Homo sapiens: one gene and its partners. The protein of the gene in region 3 purifies or fractionates together with the protein of the main gene of each other region. This does not show direct contact. Each region holds a gene or a part of one and is shown on either strand. Other genes may lie near its edges.

Evidence for each region.
Region 1: the proteins of TMPRSS4 (region 3) and AGPAT2 purify together in Homo sapiens (affinity purification with mass spectrometry, with the first as the bait; one large-scale study listed by BioGRID). This does not show direct contact.
Region 2: the proteins of TMPRSS4 (region 3) and ECE1 purify together in Homo sapiens (affinity purification with mass spectrometry, with the first as the bait; one large-scale study listed by BioGRID). This does not show direct contact.
Region 4: the proteins of TMPRSS4 (region 3) and CNNM2 purify together in Homo sapiens (affinity purification with mass spectrometry, with the first as the bait; one large-scale study listed by BioGRID). This does not show direct contact.
Region 5: the proteins of TMPRSS4 (region 3) and STC2 purify together in Homo sapiens (affinity purification with mass spectrometry, with the first as the bait; one large-scale study listed by BioGRID). This does not show direct contact.
Region 6: the proteins of TMPRSS4 (region 3) and WDR1 purify together in Homo sapiens (affinity purification with mass spectrometry, with the first as the bait; one large-scale study listed by BioGRID). This does not show direct contact.
Region 7: the proteins of TMPRSS4 (region 3) and DHCR7 purify together in Homo sapiens (affinity purification with mass spectrometry, with the first as the bait; one large-scale study listed by BioGRID). This does not show direct contact.

What each region holds. Positions count from the first base shown.
Region 1 is NC_000009.12:136,684,658-136,688,694, reverse strand, and holds the start of AGPAT2 (1-acyl-sn-glycerol-3-phosphate acyltransferase beta), read left to right. Parts: upstream 1-1,237; 5' UTR 1,238-1,337; coding exon 1,338-1,519; intron 1,520-2,498; exon of another isoform or gene 2,499-2,617; intron 2,618-4,037. UniProt on the Homo sapiens protein: Converts 1-acyl-sn-glycerol-3-phosphate (lysophosphatidic acid or LPA) into 1,2-diacyl-sn-glycerol-3-phosphate (phosphatidic acid or PA) by incorporating an acyl moiety at the sn-2 position of the glycerol backbone.
Region 2 is NC_000001.11:21,220,964-21,224,463, reverse strand, and holds part of ECE1 (endothelin-converting enzyme 1), read left to right. Parts: intron 1-2,621; coding exon 2,622-2,717; intron 2,718-3,500. UniProt on the Homo sapiens protein: Converts big endothelin-1 to endothelin-1.
Region 3 is NC_000011.10:118,083,578-118,087,077, reverse strand, and holds part of TMPRSS4 (transmembrane protease serine 4), read right to left. Parts: intron 328-3,500; coding exon of another isoform or gene 321-327; exon of another isoform or gene 115-320; intron 1-114. UniProt on the Homo sapiens protein: Plasma membrane-anchored serine protease that directly induces processing of pro-uPA/PLAU into the active form through proteolytic activity.
Region 4 is NC_000010.11:103,078,794-103,082,293, forward strand, and holds part of CNNM2 (metal transporter CNNM2), read left to right. Parts: 3' UTR 1-3,500.
Region 5 is NC_000005.10:173,314,223-173,318,414, reverse strand, and holds the end of STC2 (stanniocalcin-2 precursor), read left to right. Parts: intron 1-165; coding exon 166-568; 3' UTR 569-3,692; downstream 3,693-4,192. UniProt on the Homo sapiens protein: Has an anti-hypocalcemic action on calcium and phosphate homeostasis.
Region 6 is NC_000004.12:10,110,300-10,113,799, reverse strand, and holds part of WDR1 (WD repeat-containing protein 1), read left to right. Parts: intron 1-3,500.
Region 7 is NC_000011.10:71,436,153-71,438,393, forward strand, and holds part of DHCR7 (7-dehydrocholesterol reductase), read right to left. Parts: intron 1,792-2,241; coding exon 1,660-1,791; coding exon of another isoform or gene 1,652-1,659; intron 1-1,651. UniProt on the Homo sapiens protein: Oxidoreductase that catalyzes the last step of the cholesterol synthesis pathway, which transforms cholesta-5,7-dien-3beta-ol (7-dehydrocholesterol,7-DHC) into cholesterol by reducing the C7-C8 double bond of its sterol core.

The DNA of each region.
Region 1 (4,037 bases), on a different chromosome or scaffold from region 3:
AAAGAGGTCAAGCCAGGCCCTCCAAGCTGATTCCAGATGAAGCCCATATGGATCTGGAAGGAGACTGGGCTGGAAAATGCTCTCCTGGGTTTCGCTGTAAGATGCCTACAGGCCTAAGGCAAAAGGATGTGTCTCCACTTTCAAGAAAAGCTGGGACCGCCTGGGCAGGGGCTGCTGAGCCCAGGCAGCGAGACCCCACGTCCTTCAGGACCGCAGTTCCCCATTCATTTGAAGAGCAGTTTCTGTATTTGTCATTCTCTCAGTACAGTTTGGGGGGTGGTTACAATGTTCAGGGAAATGTTTTAACAGCTCAACTCTGCATCTGAAAAAAGAGGGGCCGTGCTCCCCTGCTGACCCGTTAGAGCGCAGGGCGGCCAGCACTCCCGCAACTGCAGCAAACCCAAGAGTCCCTATGAGGAGGGACCCCAGGAAACTGCTTTTCAATCTCCATCTGCTCCCTGAGGTGGGACGCCGGGTGGGGGCCGGGCCAGGTGACTGCTGCCCTTGTCCCAGCTGCACCTTGCCCTGCCACGCTGGCCGTGCTGCCAAGCGGATGTGAACGCCGCCACCTGACACCCACCTCGCCTGCCCCCGGAGCGTCCCTGGTGACAAGGCTACTTCTGGCACCCAGGGTGGGGCAACCCAGCCCCGCCCAGACACACGCCCCAGTTGGCCTGCGCGCCCCCACGAGTCTCCCCGCAGGGGACCGAGAACACCCTAAGAGCCAGGCTTTCTGCCAGGTGGCCACTGGTCACTCGGGGGCGGTTCCGGCGGCCCTTTGCGTGGCCACCGGCCTGGCACGGGCGCATCCCCGCTGGTTTTACGCCCTTGGGGAGCTGTGGTTCTGCGCGCGGGAGCCTGTGGCTGCCCCGGCAGCGGGGGGAGGGGGCACCGGGCGGGGCAGGAGGCCCAGACCATGGGGGGCAGCGCCAGAGCCCGAGCCACCGGCAAGCCATGATGGGGGGGTCCCCTGGGACCGGGAGGGTGGGAGCAGAGCGCCAGAGCCTCGGTAACCTGGCAGAAGGCTGTGGGGAGGGAGCGTGGAGGGGAGGTCCGGGCCGGGTGACCCAGGGCGGGAAGGGGGGGCCGTGTCGGGGCGGGGTTGGGGACAGTGGCGGGGCGGGGCCTGGTGAGGGGACCGTGTCGGGGCGTTGTTGGGGACAGTGTCGGGGCGGGGCGCCGCACCTAGCCCTTCCCTGCCGCGCGCTCCTCCCCCACGCCGCGCCCCGCCCCGCCCAGCCCCGCCGCCCTCGCAATAAGGGGCCTGAGCGCGCGGGGGAGAAGCGGGAGCGGGAGCGGGAGCGAGCTGGCGGCGCCGTCGGGCGCCGGGCCGGGCCATGGAGCTGTGGCCGTGTCTGGCCGCGGCGCTGCTGTTGCTGCTGCTGCTGGTGCAGCTGAGCCGCGCGGCCGAGTTCTACGCCAAGGTCGCCCTGTACTGCGCGCTGTGCTTCACGGTGTCCGCCGTGGCCTCGCTCGTCTGCCTGCTGCGCCACGGCGGCCGGACGGTGGAGAACATGAGGCAAGGCCGGGGGCCGCCGGGAGGGGCCGGGGAACCGCCGCGCCGCTTCCGCTTCCCTAACTTTCTTCTGGGCTTCCCTCCTTCCTGCCCCGCCCGTCCCGCCCCGCTCCGGGGCTCCGGGGAGAGCGCGCCTGGGCCGGCGGCAGGCACAGGAGGGGGTCCCGGAGTCAGGGGGTCCCGGAGTCACGGGGTCAAGGAGCCGGCGTCACAGTGCCCAGCACCCCACCCCCCGCCCTGGCCCCGGGCGTCTACACCGGTTTCGGCCTCCGCCGCGTCCCTGCAGCCCGGCGTGGGGTTCCGGGGGTGGAGCAGCTTTCGGAGAGAAAGGGGGCCGGTCCGCGCTGGGAGAGGCTCAGCCCTGCTTCCTGAGCGGGGAAACCGAGGCCGGGGCGGCGGGGACTTGCCCCAGGGCTATTGATCAGGGCGCACGACGGCGTGGGGGCACCCCTCGGCCTCCCTCCGACCCCCTCCTGACTGTCCGCCCGGTGATGGGCGCACCTGTGGGGCGGGTTCCCCTTTCTCTCCCTTTCCTCTTCGCAGGGAGGTGGGGGACCCGGAGGGGACCTGCTTCCGTGCTGGGGAGCGCGCCCCTGGCCTACAGCTCCGGGGGCCCAGCTTCCAAGCGAAGGGAAGGAAGAGTTAGGACTAGGGTTCGGCGGGGCTGAAATTTTCCCCTGGACGCCTTCCAGAAGGTGGGAGCTTGGTTTTGCCAGGCTGGGGTTGGGGGCCAGAGGTCAGACTGGGCTGCCAAAGACGGCGGGGGCTGCCTGCTCCTGGGCGGGGTGGCTGCTGGAGAAGGCTCTTGCCTGCCCCCTCTCCCTGTTAGCCGTCCCCAGGCTGTTGCTACATTTCTCCCTGCCCTGTTTGGACTGCCCAGCCAGTGGCTTTTGCAATGGCCTGGGGTGGGGGCATTGTGGCCCCAGAGGCCCCCTTCCCCGTGGTTCCAGGGGCAGTGGGTGAGGGTTTGCTAGCTCCCTGCACTCGCTGTCCTTGCCAGCCCTGGGAGGGCACTGAGGCTGCTGGAACGGGCCTACAGTCATGGCTTCCAACGGAGCCCCAGAAGCTCCAGGAATATGAAGGAGGACCCTGGGCCTGATGGTGAGCATGGAGAGTCCGAGAAGGGCCTGCTGGCTGCTCAGCCAGACGTGTGTGACCAGTGGTGATGTGGGCCAGGTGGCCCAGGCCGGGGTCCCGGGGAGCGCACACTCCAGGGCTGGCCCAGGTGGTGACTGGCGCTGACGTCCCCAGTGGAGCACCCTTCAGCGAGGAAGGCAGTTTGCAGAAACAGGGAGTTCCTGGGGGCTGGGCTCTGGGCACCTGTGCTGGAATCTGTGAAGGCCTCACCTGTGGTTCTGGCCCTGGGATCCCCTGTAGGCAGGGGTCTCTGTGAGGGGCCCCCCTCAGCCCCTGGGGTGCTTCAGAGTAGGGGCGAGGGTGCGGCTTTCCCAGCTGAGGAGGGGCCAGTCTGTGGGTTCCTTGGGGTGCCCCCCACCCCGAGGAAATGGCTTGTGTGGTTCTGATGCCTGCAGGGCATCCTGTGCTGGGCGTGTCCTGGGGTGTGGACAGGGGACGGGGTCCTGTTCTTTTGGCAGAAATGATGGGGCACCTGACTTAGGAGACCCTGGAGCAGACCCCACTACTGAGCCAGGCCACAGGCCACGGGCCTCTTCATCGGCGGCCTCCTCGTGTGAGAAAGCCTGGCTTGTTCTGCAGGGGCCTCTGCCTGGACTTCCTAGCTGTTTTCCAGGGACCAAATCACAGTTCACCTGCTGCCCTTTCTATGGACCTGGCAGGCTGGGTTGGCTGGCACTGGCCCTGCTGCCCCACTGGGCCCTGTCCCCATCTCAGCTTGGAGATTCTGGCTAACCTGGGTGTCCTCGGGACCTGGGGCCTCTGATGGTGCTTGGATGGGACCCTCCTGCCGCCCTCACCTCTCCAGGGCAGCACCCAGGCTCAGGCCTGTGGAGTAGTGGCTTCCGGGACACTGGCTACTAACAGCAGGTGCTTTGTTCCTGCTTTGGTCCCTGAAGAGAAGGGAGGGCCAGAGGGCAGGGCAGTCTGGAGGAGAGGCCTGGGGCTCCATGGCTACCTTCCCCCACACCTCTGCACGTGCTCCCCAGGCCCCAGGGTCCCTGATGACTTCCAAGACTCCCAGCAATGGCTAAGAGTGGGGCTGTTGCGAACGTGCGTTCCCTCCGTGGGGGCCGTCGGGAGGGGTGAGAAAGGCAGATGAAGAGCAGGCGCTTTGTCACTCCAGGGAAGGGACCCGGGGGGCTGGAAGGGAAGGAGGGGATACTCGGCCTCTGTTCCTGCTGTACGCCACGGGTGCCTCCAGCCTCAGGAACAGGGATTCGCGTGTGCTCTGTGTTACAAATAAGGACACTGAGGCTGAGATAAGCAACTTGAAACTGGGGCAGGGTCCCCAAGCCAGGATGGGGTGGAACTGGGGTTCGAACCCACTGACAGTGACTCCAGAGTACCTGCTTTTCCCTTTCCCCTTGTTCCCAGCCCAGCGCTT
Region 2 (3,500 bases), on a different chromosome or scaffold from region 3:
GCTTAAAGTCCACGAGTCAATGAAAGGTATTGAGAATCTACCTAGCAGGGGCTGTGTTTGAAGCTCATCCTGCTCTCTAAAAGCTTATACTCTTAGTGGAGGCTGGAAGGGGAAGAAAGGCAAATAAATACATCATAAATCTGTAAGATAATGTCAGCTATTGAAAAGGTGACGAATATAAACTGGGGCGAAGTAATGAGGAATAACGGGGGGTAAAAGGAATAATGGGGAGGACGCTGGCCACGGCAGGCCTTCTCTGGGGTTATGACATTTGCATAGAGACCTAAATGATGAGGAAGAGCCTGGGAAAAGCTGGGGAAAATGGTCTCAGCAAGAGGAAGAGCAAGTGCAGAGGCCACGAACTAGACACAAGCCTGGCACGTCCAAGGATGGGAAGAAGGGCAGGGCAGAGTGTAGGGAATGCGGGGACCAGACCACTCCAGGCTTCTGTCGGCTGCGGCTAAGGAAGGACCTTTGGTTTTGTCCTGGTTATGATAGAGAGACACAATATAGGGTTTTAAAATAGAGGAATGACATGATTCAACCTACCCTTTAAAACAGGGGTCAGCCGGGCGCAGTGGCTCATGCCTATAATCCCAGCACTTTGGGAGGCCGAGGTGGGCGGATCATTTGAGGCCAGGAGTTCAAGTCCAGCTTGGCCAACATGGTGAAACCTCATCTCTACTAAAAATATAAAAATGGCTGGGCACGGTGGCTCATGCCTGTAATCCCAGCACCTTGGGAGGCCTTGGTGGGTGGATCACGATGTCAGGAGTTCAAGACCAGCCTGCCCAAGATAGTGAAACCCCGTCTCTACTAAAAATACAAAGATTAGCCAGGCGTGGTGGCAGGCGCCAGTAATCCCAGCTACTCGGGAGGCCGAGGCAGGGAATTGCTTGAACCCGGAAGGTGGAGGTTGCAATGAGCCAAGTTCGCGCCACTGCACTCCAGCCTGGGCAACAGAGCAAGGCTCCATCTCAGAAATATGTACATATTTATATATAAAAAATAGCCAAGTGTGGTGACGCATGCCTGTAATCCTAGCTACTTGGGAGGCTGAGGCATGAGAATCTTTTAAACCCAGGAGGCAGAGGTTGCAGTGAGCCAAGATTGTGCCACTGCACTCCAGTCTGGGTGACAGAGCGAGACTCTGTTTCAAAAAAATAAATAAATAAAAATAAAACAAGAGTCCTCTGGGTGCCGTGGCTCATGCTTGTAATCCCAGCACTTTGGGAGGCCAGGGTAGGTGGATCACAAGCTCGACTTCAAGACCAGCCTGGGCAACGTGGTGAAACCCCGTCTCTACCAAAAATACAAAAAAATTAGCTGGGCATGGTGGCGTGCATCTGTGGTTCCAGTTACTCAGGAGGCTGAGGTGGGAGGATCGCTTGAGCCTAGGAGGTGGAGGTTGCAGAGAGCCAAGATTGTGCCAGTGCACTCCAGCCTGGGTGACAGTAAGACCCTGTCTCCAAAAAAAACAAAAACAAAAACGAGTCAGCACACCTACAGCCCATGGGCCGAATCTAGCTGTGAGGCTGTTTTTGTAAATGAAGTTTCTTGGCGTTGCAGCTGGCTCCATTTGTTTCCATGTCTGTGGCTTTTTTTTTTTTTTTTTTTTTTTTGAGACAGGGTCTCACTCTGTCACCCAGGCTGGAGTGCAGTGGCGCAATCTCGGCTCACTGCAACCTCTGCCTTCCTGGTTCAAGTGATTCTCCTGCCTCAGCCTCCTGAGTAGCTGGGATTACAGTCATGTGCCACCGCACCTCGGCTAATTTTTGTATTTTTAGTAGAGATGGGGTTTCACCATGTTGGCCAGGCTGGTCTCAAACTCCTAACCTCAGGTGATCCACCTGCCTGGGCCTTCCAAAGTGCTGGGATTACAGGTGTCAGTCATCGCACCCGGCCATGTGGCTGCTTTCATGCTGCAATAGCAGAATTGAGTCATTGCAGCGGTGACCATTAGCCCACAAATCCCAATGTGCTCACTCTCTGGCCATCCACAGAAAAGGTTTGCCAGCACCTGCTTCCTAAGGTTCACTGAAGTTGCTTTGCCAGGAGGGGAATGGAATTGAATCAGCCTGAGTCAGAAGACTGATTAGAAAGCTGTTGTGAGGTTGTCCAGGCAAGAGACAGGGTAGAGCAATGGGAAGGGGGAGCGGAGCAGTGGTCAGTGTTTGATCTGAGAGAAAGAGAAGAATTGAAGAAGCGTTCTGGGTTTGGGGCCTGGGATGATGGATGGTGGTACCATTGACTATGATGGGAAAAGTTGTGTGTATGTGTGTGTGTGTGCATGCACACACACGATGTGGCTCTGTTTATACCATGTTAAGTTTGAGATGCATCTTGGCTGTCCAGCTGGCACAGTTGAATATACACATCAGGGAAGAGGCTGGAGCAGAAGGTGTAAATGTGAGAGCCATCAGTGCGTAGAAGGTATTTTAAGCCATAGGGCTAAACGAGTGCACATCAAGAAGAGGGCTCCCCTAGGCTGAGCCCAGGCCCAGATCCCCAGAAACTAGTCCTTGCCCCAACACGGGGGAGCTCCCTGAGACCTCCATACCAGTCCCCTCCTTCACCACCTGCCATGGGAACCCCTGAGCTTTGGTTTTCTCTCCTCCCAGGCTTACCAGAACTGGGTGAAGAAGAACGGGGCTGAGCACTCGCTCCCCACCCTGGGCCTCACCAATAACCAGCTCTTCTTCCTGGGCTTTGCACAGGTGAGTCCATTAGGAAAACATGCCACACATGGTACATTCTGCCATCTTGATGTTTCAAGAGCCCAGAGAGCCGAAAGGCAAGTTCCCCACAGATTGAGAACTTCCCAAGTCACTGGACTGTGCACAGCACATGTGCCCTGTCATTAGAGAGATGCACGGAAGGGCCCAAAGTACCAGTGAAGGGATTCCTGGATCTGGTGAATGAGAAGACGAGGTGATCACCCAGGGCCCTTCTGGTTCTAGGGTTCTAGAGGTTTCTTAAACTTAAGATGACCAGCCAGGCACAGCAGCCCACGCCTATAATCCCAGCACTTTGGGCGGCCGAGGCAAGTGGATCACCTGAGGTCAGGAGTTTGAGACCAGCCTAGTCCACATAGTGAAACCCTGTCTCTATGAAAAAATACAAAAAAAAAGTCAGGCATGGTGGTGGCTGCCTGTAGTCCCAGCTTCTTGGGAGGCTGAGGCATGAGAATCACTTGAACCTGGGAGGCAGAGGTTGCAGTGAACCAAGATCACGCCACTGCACTCCAGCCCGGGCAACATAGCAAGATTCTGTCTTGCTGTGATCATCCCAGATCATCCCTTCAGTCGGCATTCATCTGGTAGCCTTCTGCTGGCACTCAGAGCTACCAGGCCATTAGACAATTTGTTCTGCCCAGGAAATGAGAGATCTGGACTAAATCCAAGCTTTTCCAACTGGTGTTTGGACACAGTCCTTTGTTCAGATGGAATCGAATGCAGTTGCCTCAGAGATGCTGCGCTGGCTGAAGGAGAACAGTTTGG
Region 3 (3,500 bases):
CAGGTCCTTTGAGGCTTGGGCAGGTGGCAGTTAGGTTGCTGAGGCCAGTAATAAGCAGTGGGGAAAACCCAAGGGAGGGGGTGGGGAAAGTTCTTCGGGTAAGCCAAGAGACCCAGAGGTGCTTGCCGTCAGCTTGCAGAGTGGGGCCCGGCCACAGTGCTCCTCTGAGGGAGCCTCACTCTGCTCTCTGACCCCAGAACCTGCATCCCTCCCCAAAACCAACGGCAAGCAGCTGTGTCCTCTCCACTTGCAGCTGGAATAGGCAGTTTGATGCCTTTGCTGCGCTGGCAACAGGGCTCTCTCTCTTGGATGTCTCAGCCATGACAGGTAAGGAGAGGGTCACTGAGGGCTGGAAGATCATGGGGCAGGAGAGGAGGGAGTGAGTTTCCTGAGATGAGCCTGGTGGTGATGCAGCAGCCCAGAGTGCATGGGAGGTCCTCAGAGATGACTGATCATGCCGACTTCCAAGTATCCTGGGATCGCACCTGTTACTCTGTCTCTAGGCAGGTCGGCCACCAGCCCAGGCCATATGCCGCTGGGCATCTAAGCTCTCACGCAGAAATTCAGGGAGCATCCTCACAAACACTGCCTTGCGTTGAGTCATTATTAGAGCAGCACTTTTTCCTTTGGGTCTAACCTCAGCCTTGGCTGCTACATTAGAAACCATTTTGCCTTGTTCTAAACCACATAGGTGCTGACCTATTGGCAATTTGAGCCGAGCACCTCATCCCCCATCTCAGCACATAATGGCTCCAGGGCAGGGCCTGGGGCAGAAGGGAGGAGTCAGGCAGCCTGCCATTATCCCCTGCCAGCCTGCTGTTCAGCTCCCATCATTTAAGAATCAGCTTTTGTGTTCGGGCATAGCTCTTAGGTTCAGATAGGGCTGGGGAGGCAGGGAAGATGTAACTATTCCTATTTCACAAATGGAGAAACTGAGGCACAGCGCTTATGCTTTTTCCCCAGAGACAATGTGAAGGGCAGGAGTGAGGTATTTGTACATGCCCCTTGGGCTAAATTAAACTGAAGACAGACCTGGTTCCCACTGGAGGGCCCTGCTTCCAGGTGATGCTGCTGTTTACTGCAGTGCTTAGGAATCCCTCTGCGATCCTTCTCTTTGTCCTAGGGGAAGCAGCCCATTCTCTCCCACCTTTCTGAACTCTCAACAGCTCTACTTTGCTCAGCTTTCCCTCTGTTCCAGAGTGGTGGGTCCATCTGAGCCCACCTTCCCCTCCTGGAAGGGTCTGATAGGAAGGAAGGTGCCACCATCTTTGCACACCTGAGGACAATGCCTGGACAATGGCTGGAGGGGACTCGAGAGGGCCAGAAGGGGTCCCGCCACACAGTTCAGCCTTTCAGCCTGGCAGGGACCCTCATGGGTTTGCCATTGGGAAGGGCTGATGGATTTTAAAGCTTAGAGGGGTTCTCTCAACCTTGCAATTTACCTGAACTGAGGACCTGCCATCCATGGAGCAGTCTGACGTTAATTTAAAAAGGTTCAAAGACAGAGTTTATACCATCTTTCAAGAATCGTACTCACTTTTGCTTGTCCTGAGTTGTCCTTTAAACTTTAAGAGGGAGGGAAATGGCAGGGAGGGAAAAGGAACTGATTGGGACTGACTCCAGCCAGGAGTTTGAGACCAGCCTGGCCAACATAGTGAAACCCCATCTCTACTAAAAATACAAAAAATTAGCTGGGCGTGGTGGCAGGTGCCTGTAATCCCAGCTACTCGGGAGGCTGAGGCAGGAGAATCGCTTGAACCTGGGAGGCGGAGGTTGCAGTGAGCCAAGATCCTGCCACTGTACTCCAGCCAGGGCAACAGTGTTAGACTCTGTCTCAAAAAAAAAAAAAAAGAAGAAGAAGATCTGACTCCTCCATCTGTAGAACAACTTTTGAGCAAGTCACTAAACAGCTCCTGGACCCAGTTTCCTTCTTTGGAATGTGGGTACAATAAAAGCGACTTCACAAGATGATGGGGAGAAAGATTCTGTAAGGTGCGCCACCTGCTCAGCACCGTGCACATTTTCAGCACCTTTGCAAGCCCCCAGGAGCCCCATCTGGTCTTTGCATGATTTTACAGACTTGCTCATAGTCCCCTAGGTTGGTCTTTGCAGTTTGAGGGGTCTCAGCTGCCTTGATCAGAAGGGGGTTGTCCCTTGATCCTGCTCCTCCTGAACTCTGAGGCAGGGACACTGGCCTGAATCCAGCTCTGCCTCTTCCCAGCCATGAAGTCTTGAGCAAGTTAATAAATTTTTCTGAGTCTCAGTTTTCTCATCTGTAAAATGGGGAGAATATGACTTAATTCACAGGGTTGTTGGTGAGAATTATTGATGACACATGTGATGTGCCTGGCTTGGTGCTTGAAACATAGAGGAGTTTAGTAAGTGAAAATTAGTGCTCTCTGCCCCAATTACCCTACAGGCATGGAGAGCAGAACTCCACACATGTTCAAGGAGGGTCTGTGCTGTGGTTCTGTACAGGGGCAGGGTTGAGGATTCTCGTTTGTTCTGGAGGCCCCAGTGATAACCAGCCTTGCTGGGCTGGTGTGGCTGCTGCAGCCAATCTCCTGGCACAGGTTTCAGTGACTCCTAGATCTGTTTCCTGTGAACTCTGAGCTCAGGATCCTATAAATAGTGCTTTAATAGTGCTTCAGTGTCTTCTCTGCCTCTCTGACTTTGCAGTTGCATAACCTGAAGTTCCTTTACTGCTTTCCTGCCCACTCACATAACTCGTCGAGTGCTTCATGAAGTTTTTCCTTGCTGAAATTACATTTGCTAGGAGAGGTTGTGTTTTACAGTGCACAGAGCACAGGCCGTGGAATCCTGCAGCCTAGGTCTGAATCCTGTTTGCTCATTGGCCTGAGGCTTTAGCAAGTTATTGAACCACCAAGAAACTCAGTTTCATGTGTGTGTGAAAAAGAGGGAGAGAGAGAAAGAGAGATGCAGTAAGTCTCCCTCCTAAGGAGCCCCAGATATGCATAGCATATAGTACATTGCCTGGTGCACGGTAAGAGTACGATAATTGTTTTTTTGTTTTGTTTTTGAGATGGAGTCTCGCTCTGTTGCCCAGGCTGGAGTGCAGTGGCGCTGTCTCGGCTCACTGCAACCACCACCTCCCAGGTAAAAGCGATTCTCCTGGCTCAGCCTCCAGAGTAGCTGGGATTACAGGCGTCTGCCACCACCGCCCAGCTAATTTTTTGTACTTTCACCATGTTGGCCAGGCTGGTCTTGAACTCCTGACCTCATGTGATCTGCCCTTTTCGGCCTCCCAAAGCGGGATTACAGGTGTGAGCCACTGCACCCAGCCAAGAGTACAGTAATTGTTAACTGTAATAATAATAACAACAACAATAATAGTTTACTCATTTAGTAAGGCAACTTTCTGGGCCCTGGAGACCTAGCAGTGAACCAGAGGTAAAGCTCTTTTGCCCATGGAGTATATTCTATTATTTTTATTAGTTATTAATAACAATATTAAAATAGAACTTGGGAAGTTCATGACA
Region 4 (3,500 bases), on a different chromosome or scaffold from region 3:
ACTCCAGGTAGGAAGTCTGTTCAGCCACGGCTGGGCTGTGTGCGGGGCAGGGAGCGTGGCTGAGGAGCAGACAGCAGCGGGCCGGGCTGGCTGCCTGGTGAGCAGTTTGGTGCCTCGGGTGTTGTGCATGCCCGGCTCAGTATTTCCTCTGGGATGCCAGTCCTGGAGTGTCTTCCTCAGAAGGTGCCGTGTCCCTTAGTGGGGGGAAGTACTGATCTCACTTGGTGTAGAGGGTCACAGGGACCCCCCGAGGGTGCTGAGTGGCCTGCTACTGGCACGCAACCTGCCCCCGTGGGATGAAGCCCCACCGCGTAGCTTGACCTTAGAGGGGACCCCACTCTAAGCATCCTTTTTTTTAAACAGAGCCATCTAGATACAAAAGTCAGTTTCTTAAGATGCCTCTCACTGAGCACAACACCAGTGTGATGAGTGTATAAAGATGAGGGGTCCTTGCAACAAAGCAAAGCGTAGCCCATGCTGGAAGAGGGCATCTATCCCCCTCTTCGGGTCTGCGCAGTGCTGGCCTTCCCTGAGCTGTGGGGAGCCAAGCCTGCCTAGCCCAGCTTCTCTGGCCTCAGGAACTCTGCCCTGTCAACCTATCTGGGCTCACGTCTGCTTCTCCACACACAGTCTCTCGGGGATGCCTTGCTACTGGGAGAGCCTCTGGAATCAGAGCTAGTGTGTTGGTGCCCTTTTCAGAGCTCTGCTGTTCCTTTATAAATCCTAAAGAACTGAGTCTGGGGAGAGGAGAGGGGATGCCAGCTGCTGCCTCTGACTTCAGGGAGAAGCAGACTTCTTAATACTGTCTTACGTGCTCGGTGTGATGGCTTCTTGCAAATTATTCTCTTATAAAAGAGCTCGGCAGGAGTGGCATCAGTGAGGCTCCCAAAGGATGAAATTTTAGCCGCCAAGTTCGTATTCATTTTCTGTTATTCTTTACCTTCTGTTAGTCACACTATTTTATAACATTAGGGAATCTAAAATAATTCCTGTCAGGTCCCTGAAGGAATGAAGGCTAACATCTCCTTTGGGGAGAGCTTAGGACCCTTCAAACAACACTCATGTCTGAGCGGCCAGATTCCTCCTCCAGGCCCCATTTTCCCTCAGGAAACCAACCTCTCAGATGGTTGGAGGAGAAACACTGGGCTGTTGCTTCTTTGGGGCAGCAGGAGAATGACTTTGGCTTGGAAGGCCTCTGCCATTCATCTCTACAAAGCCAGTGGGGTCCGGCAGAGAAAGACCGTGGAATAGCTGCGGTCTCGATGTGGCTGCTCTTTGGCACCTCCGCTGGACTGCCCTCCCGCGGCGGTGACCTTTTCAAGTGTGGAAGGGAGTGGGTCGAGTGGACCAGATGCAGACCCCTGAGTTCTGGATACTGATGGGAGGCCTCACCCTCCTTTACGGGGCCTCTCTGGGTGGGACAGAGCCTCACCTGCTCCTGAGCAGCCACTGGTGCCCCACGGTTCCTCTGAAACTAAATCCCTAGCATCCAGATAGTCCTGGGACACTCTGCCTGCTCTGTAAATGAGGAGGGCTTTTCTCCTGCTGTTTGGAGGTTCCGTCCCTTCACTGCTTGTCCCATATGCGTCAGGCAAATTCAAAATCATACATTTAAACTCTTAGGAAAACAAAATCTTAAGACTTACACAGATATCGGGGTGCTAATCAACTGGCTTAAATCTTGATTCTTACATAATTTGAACTTGAAAGGTTACATTGAACTCTGTTCTTTCCTCCCTCCTCACCTCACTCCCTGCAGGGAGTTCAATGCCATGTTGAAGTGGTTGGCATCCCCAAGTGGGAGGGAGTGGGGCATCTTACCATCTTCTAATGTGACTTCAAGGAACAGTGCAAATGTTGAATGCAGAGCTTCACACTAATACGGAACAGTAACTGTGAGTATATTTACCTGTGCTGTCGTCAGCACTGTACACTAAAGGACCAGCTTTTCCAAGCCTAGGAAAATAATGGTAGATACAAATAGAAATACATTTTCCCTAGGAAATAGAGCAATAGGAATTTGAGCTAAGCAGGTACCATGAACTTCTGCCCTCAAATTCTCTCTTTGGGTTGAGGAGCAGACCTGTATAGGCCCTGGCTGATCAAGTCTGTGTCCTGCCTAGTAAAAACACACAACCACCTCTGTCATCTGAAGGCCAGCCGGGGATCTGTAGCCATCCTCGCCTTGCCTAGGCCCAGGAAGGTGAGGTCTCCTGGGCAACCAGAGTTGCCCCTGTGGTTCCCCAGGGGTGATCCTAGGCAGATGACTCACCCGGGCTGGCACAGGAAGGTGCTCACCTTGTTCTCTGGGGCTCCAAGCAAGAGCAGGCCAGGGAGGGCTGGCTTTGCACGCTATGTAGCATGACCCAAGCTCCCTGGTGGCATGGGAAAAACTCCCCTCTGCTTTTGAGCCCAGATATGGGCTTTTCTTTGCAAAGGGTTGAGGAGAAATACAAGACTGAGCTGGTAGGTTAGGGTCCAGAAGGCCTCTGAGGTGCCATTGCTTACTTCCTTACTGAGGAAACTGGCTCTTGTCCTGGGCCATGTAGTTCCATTCTGGGCTCTAGGCTAGTGGTGCTTCTGTCCATCAAGGGTATCTGGGTGAGTTGTAGGTTAACCCAGAATTTAGTAGGGATATAGGGGTTTGAATAGGAAAGTGATCTGGGGATTCAGAAATTTTTCTGATGTATCAATGAGCAACTTCTCAGTGGATTTTTATACCTCAGGGTCATTTGCAAATCTTTATCTTTTCCTATTTCTTAGGTGTTCAAGTTGGTTAATAGGAGAGAGACGTTCAGAGACTTCTAAGTTGAGGTTCATTTGCCTCCGTTTGAGGGGTGAGTGGTGCACCAATAGCTTGCTGCTGTTACTTAGCAAGGCTGTGACAAGTAGGCCTTCCTCCTCTAGCACTTGCAAGCTTTCTGTCTGCGATCACGGTTTACTTGCCCATTTCCCTTTTGCTACCTTCTTTCCTATCTGGAGATTCATATTCTAGAGTCCCTGGTCAACCCTACGGATGCGAAGAAGAGATGGCAGTTCACAGCAACTGCATAGAGTAGGGAGCAGCTTTCCTCCCACCATCCTAGGCTGGGGACCTTCTTTGCTTCTCACACCACTGTGGTTGGCTCAGCTCAAGTAAGCACGTTCTCTCTGTATGCTAGAGCTACTGACATCATCTCTACTAGAATTGTTTTAAATATCTTTTGATGGGAAATACCAGGTTGAACTTCAAGCATCATGGAAACAAAGGTTCTAGCTGCAAGAGAGTAAAGTTCTAGGTGTTTGTATGCCAAGGTTTATATGTACACAGATCCAACACATACTGTAAGAAAGACTTGAGTACACAAGGTTTTCAGGTTTTAATGCCCATTGGGACCGTGAACAAATGAGAAGAATGGGAGCATTGTCTTGCCTCGCTTGGAAGGACGCCTTCCGGCATCTGATCCACATGGATTCACTTTTAGGATGCAGTTCTTTGGGGGCCAGATTTGGCTGCAGAT
Region 5 (4,192 bases), on a different chromosome or scaffold from region 3:
TGAAGTCATTTGAGAGAGATCTTCCACCGAACCCAAGACAAGCACTGGCCATGCCTCCTTCCCAGCATTGCCCCTGCCCTCTGTGGTCCATTCGGGACTTGCTCCATTCCCAGCCTCTCTCTCTCTCTCTCTCTCTCTCTCTCTCTCTTTGCTTTCAATCTTTAGACCCTACGTGGACCTCGTGAACTTGCTGCTGACCTGTGGGGAGGAGGTGAAGGAGGCCATCACCCACAGCGTGCAGGTTCAGTGTGAGCAGAACTGGGGAAGCCTGTGCTCCATCTTGAGCTTCTGCACCTCGGCCATCCAGAAGCCTCCCACGGCGCCCCCCGAGCGCCAGCCCCAGGTGGACAGAACCAAGCTCTCCAGGGCCCACCACGGGGAAGCAGGACATCACCTCCCAGAGCCCAGCAGTAGGGAGACTGGCCGAGGTGCCAAGGGTGAGCGAGGTAGCAAGAGCCACCCAAACGCCCATGCCCGAGGCAGAGTCGGGGGCCTTGGGGCTCAGGGACCTTCCGGAAGCAGCGAGTGGGAAGACGAACAGTCTGAGTATTCTGATATCCGGAGGTGAAATGAAAGGCCTGGCCACGAAATCTTTCCTCCACGCCGTCCATTTTCTTATCTATGGACATTCCAAAACATTTACCATTAGAGAGGGGGGATGTCACACGCAGGATTCTGTGGGGACTGTGGACTTCATCGAGGTGTGTGTTCGCGGAACGGACAGGTGAGATGGAGACCCCTGGGGCCGTGGGGTCTCAGGGGTGCCTGGTGAATTCTGCACTTACACGTACTCAAGGGAGCGCGCCCGCGTTATCCTCGTACCTTTGTCTTCTTTCCATCTGTGGAGTCAGTGGGTGTCGGCCGCTCTGTTGTGGGGGAGGTGAACCAGGGAGGGGCAGGGCAAGGCAGGGCCCCCAGAGCTGGGCCACACAGTGGGTGCTGGGCCTCGCCCCGAAGCTTCTGGTGCAGCAGCCTCTGGTGCTGTCTCCGCGGAAGTCAGGGCGGCTGGATTCCAGGACAGGAGTGAATGTAAAAATAAATATCGCTTAGAATGCAGGAGAAGGGTGGAGAGGAGGCAGGGGCCGAGGGGGTGCTTGGTGCCAAACTGAAATTCAGTTTCTTGTGTGGGGCCTTGCGGTTCAGAGCTCTTGGCGAGGGTGGAGGGAGGAGTGTCATTTCTATGTGTAATTTCTGAGCCATTGTACTGTCTGGGCTGGGGGGGACACTGTCCAAGGGAGTGGCCCCTATGAGTTTATATTTTAACCACTGCTTCAAATCTCGATTTCACTTTTTTTATTTATCCAGTTATATCTACATATCTGTCATCTAAATAAATGGCTTTCAAACAAAGCAACTGGGTCATTAAAACCAGCTCAAAGGGGGTTTAAAAAAAAAAAACCAGCCCATCCTTTGAGGCTGATTTTTCTTTTTTTTAAGTTCTATTTTAAAAGCTATCAAACAGCGACATAGCCATACATCTGACTGCCTGACATGGACTCCTGCCCACTTGGGGGAAACCTTATACCCAGAGGAAAATACACACCTGGGGAGTACATTTGACAAATTTCCCTTAGGATTTCGTTATCTCACCTTGACCCTCAGCCAAGATTGGTAAAGCTGCGTCCTGGCGATTCCAGGAGACCCAGCTGGAAACCTGGCTTCTCCATGTGAGGGGATGGGAAAGGAAAGAAGAGAATGAAGACTACTTAGTAATTCCCATCAGGAAATGCTGACCTTTTACATAAAATCAAGGAGACTGCTGAAAATCTCTAAGGGACAGGATTTTCCAGATCCTAATTGGAAATTTAGCAATAAGGAGAGGAGTCCAAGGGGACAAATAAAGGCAGAGAGAAGAGACAGAACTAAAAATACGAGGAAAGGAGAGTGAGGATTTTCATTAAAAGTCTCAGCAGTGGGTTTCTTGGGTTATTTAAAACATCACCTAAATAGGCCTTTTCTTCCTAATTGGCCATCAAATTAAAGCCTATCCTTTCTCAAGCAGGAGCTGGTATTGTAGGGAGTGGCCGGGTATTCTGGGCTGGGCTCTTCTGGAGTAGGGGGTCAGCAAACATTGTCTGCAAAGGGCCAGATACTGAATCCAGTACTTTCAGTTTGGCGAGCCGTGAGGTCTCTGTCGAAACTACTCAACTCTGCCGTCCTAGCACAAAAGCAGCCATAGACAACACACAAACGAGAGGGCTTGGCTCCCTTCCAGGAAGATTTATTTAACAGGCTCCCAGCTGAATTTCACTCACAGGACACAGTTTACTGATCTCTGTTCTAGTGAGTGGGTCAAAAAGCATATGCATCCTTATCCGTCAACTCATCAGCTCTTCCTCAAGGCAACCTGAGGCCAGACACCAAGAAACCAAGCGTATCTGCTCTAAAATGACTTGTTCCTGGGGAATGCCTTCAACCAAAACACAGCTAGTATTTCTATGCCCCAAATCCAATCCCAGTCTTTCATGATCCATGCCGGCGGTTGGGTGGGGAGGGGAATCATTGGTTGGGGGAAGGGAGGAAACCCCACCTCCAGCCCCCGCCACCGGGCTCCCTGGGCACCCAGCAAGATCTGGGGCTGCAGAGAACAGAAGAGCTGGTGCACTTAATCCAGCTCTGCCCTTGGGGGGAGGAGGACCTGTGTGTCAGGCTCTGCCATGGGAACGAGTGTAAACCGTGGCTGTCTCCTGCAGTGAGCCACCGCGGCAGGCACGTTGACTGTTTTACTGACATCACTCAAAAGCTAAAGCAATAACATTCTCCTGCGTTGCTGAGTCAGCTGTTCATTTGTCCGCCAGCTCCTGGACTGGATGTGTGAAAGGCATCACATTTCCATTTTCCTCCGTGTAAATGTTTTATGTGTTCGCCTACTGATCCCATTCGTTGCTTCTATTGTAAATATTTGTCATTTGTATTTATTATCTCTGTGTTTTCCCCCTAAGGCATAAAATGGTTTACTGTGTTCATTTGAACCCATTTACTGATCTCTGTTGTATATTTTTCATGCCACTGCTTTGTTTTCTCCTCAGAAGTCGGGTAGATAGCATTTCTATCCCATCCCTCACGTTATTGGAAGCATGCAACAGTATTTATTGCTCAGGGTCTTCTGCTTAAAACTGAGGAAGGTCCACATTCCTGCAAGCATTGATTGAGACATTTGCACAATCTAAAATGTAAGCAAAGTAGTCATTAAAAATACACCCTCTACTTGGGCTTTATACTGCATACAAATTTACTCATGAGCCTTCCTTTGAGGAAGGATGTGGATCTCCAAATAAAGATTTAGTGTTTATTTTGAGCTCTGCATCTTAACAAGATGATCTGAACACCTCTCCTTTGTATCAATAAATAGCCCTGTTATTCTGAAGTGAGAGGACCAAGTATAGTAAAATGCTGACATCTAAAACTAAATAAATAGAAAACACCAGGCCAGAACTATAGTCATACTCACACAAAGGGAGAAATTTAAACTCGAACCAAGCAAAAGGCTTCACGGAAATAGCATGGAAAAACAATGCTTCCAGTGGCCACTTCCTAAGGAGGAACAACCCCGTCTGATCTCAGAATTGGCACCACGTGAGCTTGCTAAGTGATAATATCTGTTTCTACTACGGATTTAGGCAACAGGACCTGTACATTGTCACATTGCATTATTTTTCTTCAAGCGTTAATAAAAGTTTTAAATAAATGGCTTCCACTTGAGTAGCGTCATTGTCTGAGAGGGTCATTGATGTCCGGTGCACAGGGGGACAGCTGTGAGCAAGTGGGCTTTTACGTCAAGAGAATCCTATGCTTCTGTGGATGTTCAGCCTACAGGGAAGGAAGTTAGATGAAGAGGACTACCCTAGGCTTCTCCGTCAGAGGGACCCTGTCCAAGCCCCTGCCTGAGTCACCCAGACAAGGAGGAGAATAAATTTCATGCAGTTGGCCTGGAAGTGCCACCCCCACACCCCATTAGGCAGGTCCTTAAGGCTCACTCTGGTCTCACCTTTGAGTCTCCCCTGTGAGTCTCCCCTGTGGCTTGGCCACCCCTTCTCTCAGACTGAGCCTGCAGCAGACACCACCAGCTTAACAGCTGAGTGGCCTGGCATATAGAGGGAAGCCCACTGCCTCCTCCCCAGCTCTTGCTCACGACAGCAGAACAGAGCTGGAGCCCCTGGTTTACGTGATCTGTGCCACTGTTGGTGTACCT
Region 6 (3,500 bases), on a different chromosome or scaffold from region 3:
TGCTTCGCTACTGCGCCACATTTTAATTTTAGTAAATCCTTCTGACTCCACATTCAAAGTATCTTCAGAATCTAACAGATTTCCCTGGCTTCCTCTGCCTCCACCCACGACTAAGCTATCTTCCCCCACCTGACTTATTGCCCCCAGACTCCCGAAAACCAAACAGGTCTCCTTGCTTTCACCCTTGTTGCCCTGGGGGTCTGTTCACAACACTCGCTGGAGTGGCTGAAACACAAGACAGGCCTCTAGTGGCTTCCCACCTCGGTGAAAGCCAGAGTCCTTACCGTGGCCTCGGCTCCAGCGTTCTTGCCTCCTTGCTGCTTCTTGAACATGCCACACATCTGTCTTGGTACCTGCTAGTTATTGCCTTTGCCTGGACATTTTCTCAGATAGCTGCAAGTCTTGCTCCCTGTCTTCTCTTTGGTTTTTCTTTTTTAATTTGAGGTGGAGGCTTACTGTCGCCCAAGCTGGAGTGCGGTGGCGTGATCTTGGGTCACTGCAACCTCCACCTGCCGGGTTCAGGCAAATCTCCTGCCTCAGCCTCCCGAGTAGTGGGGACTACAGGTACGTGCCAATTCACCTGGCTAATTTTTGTATTTTTTAGTAGGTAACGGGGTTTCGCCGTGTTGGCCAGGCTGATCTTGAACTCCCAACCTCAAGTGATCTGCTCGCTCGCCTTGGCCTCCCAAAGTCCTGGGATACAGGCGTGAGCCACCACACTAGGCCTTTCCCTTTGGTTTATACTTAGATGTAGTCACCTTAGTAGAGGGGTGTCCCCGGAATAGAATTTTCCATCCCCGGCCTTCTGTCTTTCTCATTGCTGACAATAAGTAGGAAGCAAGCTAACAAGCAGCAGGCTACGGCTGCCTACAAGTGTACATAGGTATCTGCCTGTCCCCCTAACTGGGCATCAGCTCCAGGCCAGCAGGGCTTTCCCCTCTCTTTCAGTCACTGCCGTGTCCTCGCCTAAGAGAGTGTCTGGCACACAGTAGGTGCTCAGTGAGTTACTCATTGATTAAAAAGCCTGGAAAACCAGGCTGTGTCGTGAAGATAATAGGCAGCCACTGAGGTCTTACTGCATGAGAACAAGGAAAGCTCAGCTCAGTGTAGATTGCCGGACCTAAATTTTGTGGAATCGCCTTTCATACCTAAGAGGCGAGCACCGTTGCCAGCTTTGCACTTGGAGCCCCCTCTGTCATTTATTTTGTTGACTTAAAAGCTGTTTTGTGAACCCAGCATAATGGCACTTCTTAAACTTGTAGAAAAAGGGTGTTTCTTACCTGTTTATTTCAACACATCTCGTTGCCTCACCTGGAGAGGCAACTCTCCTCTGTAGAGTGAAAGACTATAATGGTGGCCATGTAGAAACTAATATTCCAGAAGGAGAGAGCTCCAAGAAGGGGATTCCAGTGAACCATATGTACACTGTGTTTGAGAGACATTAGTTCCCCACGGAGAAGGGATGGATAGTCTGTGCTTCGGGGGTCTAAGGAAGGCTTCCTGCAGGTGCTGGTACCTCCTTAGGTCTGGGGTGGTTCCTTCTAAGTTTCCTTACCCTGCCTGCATCACCTCTGCCTCTTATGACCTCTGTGCAAAGACTGGGAAGGGTCACCCCCAATGGCTGTGAACGAACCTGTTTGTGATTCTAAACAGGGCACGGGACCATCCTACAATAAAAATTACCCAGCCTAAAATGCCAGTAGTGCCAGTAGTCCCTGTTTAGAAAAAGAAAAAAAAAAAGCAACTTTTGCCTCACAACAGAGGCCCTCTTGTGTGCTGCCAGGCAGCCAGCAGATTTGCTATGCAGGCAAGTTTGGGGCCTGGTTTTTAAAGTATCCAGTTCCTAGATTCCAGAACTAAAATACACATTTGGAAAAATGATGTCTATAAAATTGAGTTTCCGGGAGTGCAAGGTTTATAGCAATTTGACACTGCTGGGAACCCAGGCGCAGTATCAGTGGACTTTTCTCCTTGAACAGGGGGCAGACCAAGTGGGGGGTTGGGGAGGGTATTGGGCTCACTCTTGGTTTCCCTTGGTGTGAGCTGCCACCATTCACATGCAGAGGACTCACCTGTGTTTCCTGCGGGTTGGGGGTAATGGTGGCATGACAGAGGGCTTGAGGACTGACCTAGCTGCTTCTCCGGAATTGGACGCCTGCTGACTACCTGCGTGTATCCAGATGGCCATTGGCCTGTGGGGGTGCAGGATGGAGGCCCTGCCCACATGGAGCTCACTGTCCTGGGTGGGAGTGAAATAAACTCTAGGTGGCAGAAGGAAGTGGTGCGTTGGATTATCACCTGGGTGCAAACGAGCTGGCAGCAGCGCCTGCCAGGTGCAGAGCCAGGAACCTCTAGGCCTTCAGTCTGACCACCTGATGGCAGGGGAAGCAGAGGGTGGTGGGGGGCCTTCATCTCAGGAGAATCTGAGTGGCTGCAGGTGCCAGTCAGGACGCTGGGCTTCTGCAGATGGGACCACATCTGGGAGGACCGAAGGGCCGGGTGCTTATGGGCTGTTACTGTGGCACTGAGCGTGAGGGGAGTGGACAGGACCCAGGCTGAGAAGTGCTGGTGTGCAGTGGTGGCAGGTGGCTCACACAGCCCTACCATAGCGCAGCCCTGCTCTGAAGGCCACTGGAGCCATTCAGAGGTCTCACAGACAAGTAATCAGATCCAGCCTACGGTAAGGAGAAGTTCTGTATCTGAGATCTGAGGCAGGGAAGCCAATTAGGAAGCTGCTCAAAGATGAAGGCGGCGTCAGCGCAGGTTCCGTTGCGTGGTGCAGCCATCTCTGGCTCTCACGTTTCCCACACATGTTCACTAAGCCCCTGTCTTGGCAAGCCATACCCTAAGCCACAGAGGACCAGGATTAAAATCAGTGATTTTCAGGGAGGGGTAATTTCCCCCACCTCATTCCCCTGAGGGATATCTGGCAACGTTTGCAGACATTTTTGTGCCACTGGTATCTGAAGTCAGGGTTGTGGCCAAACATCCGACAAGGTACATGGCCGTCCTTCCACAAAGAACTGTCCAGCCCCAAATGCCAGGGGTACCAAGGTTGAAAACTCTGGTAAAGAACCTTCGAAGGCACCAGGTTAAGTGCTTCAAAAGAACAATGCCCTGGGTGCTCTGGGAATGTGAGGGAGGAGCCAGCTGTGCCACAGAGCGGGGACAGCTGCTGGAGAAGTGCCACATTTGAGTTGGGTCTTGAAGGATGAATAAGAGTTCTCCAGGAGGAGCGTTGAGACACACGGCAGAGGTGGGGAGAAACCAGGCAGGAAACAGCATGTGTACCTGGGTCCTCTCAGCCCCACTGTGGCCTCCTGTGTGTTGCTTTTGGTACATTTCTTGCCCTGTTGGAGGTAACGGGAGGGATACTGAAGCCATCTTTGAGGTAAGAGAAGAGGTTTAGCCTCATGCGTAAGACTACTGGAGAGATGGCCTTGCCCAAGAGTAGTTGGAGATGCTTCTTTGGAGAGTGACCTCCACCTTCTGCAAGGCCC
Region 7 (2,241 bases), about 47 Mb from region 3:
GATGGTCAATTTAACGTGTCCACTTGGCCAGGCCATTGTTCCCAGATATTTGGTCAAACACTAGTTGTAAAGGCATTTTTCAGATGAGGTTCATATGTTAATCAGTCAACCAGGCAGAGTGGATGACCCTTCACAATGGGGGTGGGCCTCATCCAATCAGTTGACAGCTTTAAGAGACAGAAGACCCACCTTCCCCAAAGAAGAGGGAATCTGCTAAAAAGTGGCCTTCTGGCCATGCACAGTGGCTCACACCTGTAATCCCAGCACTTTGGGAGGCCAAGGCGGGCGGATCACGAGATCAGGAGTTTGAGACCAGCCTGACTAACATGGTGAAACCCCATCTCTACTAAAAGTACAAAAATTAGCTGGGCGTGGTGGCATGCACCTGTAATCCCAGCTACTCGGGAGGCTGAGGCAGGAGAATCACTTGAACCCAGGAGGTGGAGGTTGCAGTGAGCCAAGATCACACCACTGCACTCTAGCCTGTGTGACAGAGCGAGACTCCGTCTCAAAAAAAAAAAAAAAGTGACCTTCTATTTAAGCACAGCATCAACTCTTCCCTGGGGCTCCAGGCTGCCCTGAAGATCTTGGACTTGTCACTCTTCAATCACATGAGTTGAAAAATACATCTCTTTCTTACACGTATACCCTCCACCCCTCTATTGATTCTGCTTCTTGGGAGAAACCTAATATATAGTATAAAAAATGTACATCTCGAGACACACACAGAGGCTAAAGCAAGTAAGAGCTATTATATAGTGGGACCTATTGCTACGTTTTCACATCCTTGGAAAATGGAGTTTATAAAACCAGGGAACCAGCAGACCTGCAGCCAGCCAGGTGGAGAAATGGGGCCGGGTGGGCCATGCGGGGGGCTCCAAGGACCTGGTGTGAGCATGGGGCCAGCTGGGGCTCTGCACCCTCCACCTGGTACTGGCCCCCTCTGCTGTGGGAATCCTGGTTTTCCAGGACACCCGCACCTCCATCCCACAGGACTGGCTGTCACAGGTGATGCCGGGCCTGTCACATCCTGAATAGGTGACAGCCTCTCCACGTTGGTTCTCTCCACTTGGGCACAGCCTCTTGGGGCAGGCCACCCCACCGTTCTGCTAAGCAAGTGCCCTGGGGTGAGTTATTTCTGTCCCCAGGGGGCTCGTTGCTCTTGAAATGGGCAGGTGGCATCTGGTCAAGCAGCCACCTTACCTGGGAGCCCAGCACTCTCCCCAAATCAGAGCAGGGCTGCTCTCGTTGAGCTGGGAGGGGAGTGGGGGGCTTGATGCCAATGACAAGGCCACTTGCTATCCCCTACTGTCCTGGAACTCCCAGGGCAGCCCTGCCCCAGTGCCCAGCACATCCTAGGAGGCAGGAATGAAGAGGACCCCTCCTGCCAGTGCCCGCACTGACCCACCTCCACCTCCACTGCCCCATCCAGCCCTGAGCCGGCATCTGCCCTACTTTGCAGATGTTAGGGACATACTCAAGGCCACCTCCCTGGCTGCTGGCCCAAGCTGGCTGAGCTGGCTAATACACGAGGCCTTCCCTTCTTCCTAGAAACAGGGGGCAGCTTTGGTGCCCCCAAGGACAGACGCTTCTGCAAGGAGAAAGCTTAGCATGTGTCTGCCAAATGCCCCGCTGGGCCAGCTCTGCCCACCTCCTCACCTGCAGCGTGTAAAGATAAGGCAGCCAGACACAGTCGCCCCAGCCCAGGTACCACCCGAAGTGGTCATGGCAGATGTCAATGGTCTTCAGGTACCAGGTTTCGTTCCAGAAGAAGTCAATCACGTAGATGGCCTGCAAGACAGAAGCAGCCGCTGACCACCCCCGGCCCTCCTGGGGCCCCCATGGACCTCGGGGAAATCACACTCCACGCAGATGCAGCAGGGGGTGCTCGGGAGCTGCTCAGCAACTTCCTCAATGCTGGGGCTGTTCCTTCCCTGCGGCTGGGGCTGTTCCTGCCTGGGTCATGGGCAGGGCTAAGGGCTTCCTTGTCCTCAGAACCACCCCGAGCCCATGGCCCTGGCATCTCTCCCAGCCCAGGTTCTCAGGGCTTGCAATGGCGCGTGCCAAGGGGAAGGGATACATTCATCCCATCCAGGTCAACCTCCTGCCCGAGCAACGTCCACAGCTCCTGACAGGCCTCCCTCACCCTCTCGGGTTCTCCTAGCCAGCTCCCGCTGGCTCCCTGGGTGACGCTTCCGAATGCACCTGATCGCTGCCACCCTGCACCCCAGCTCAGCACAC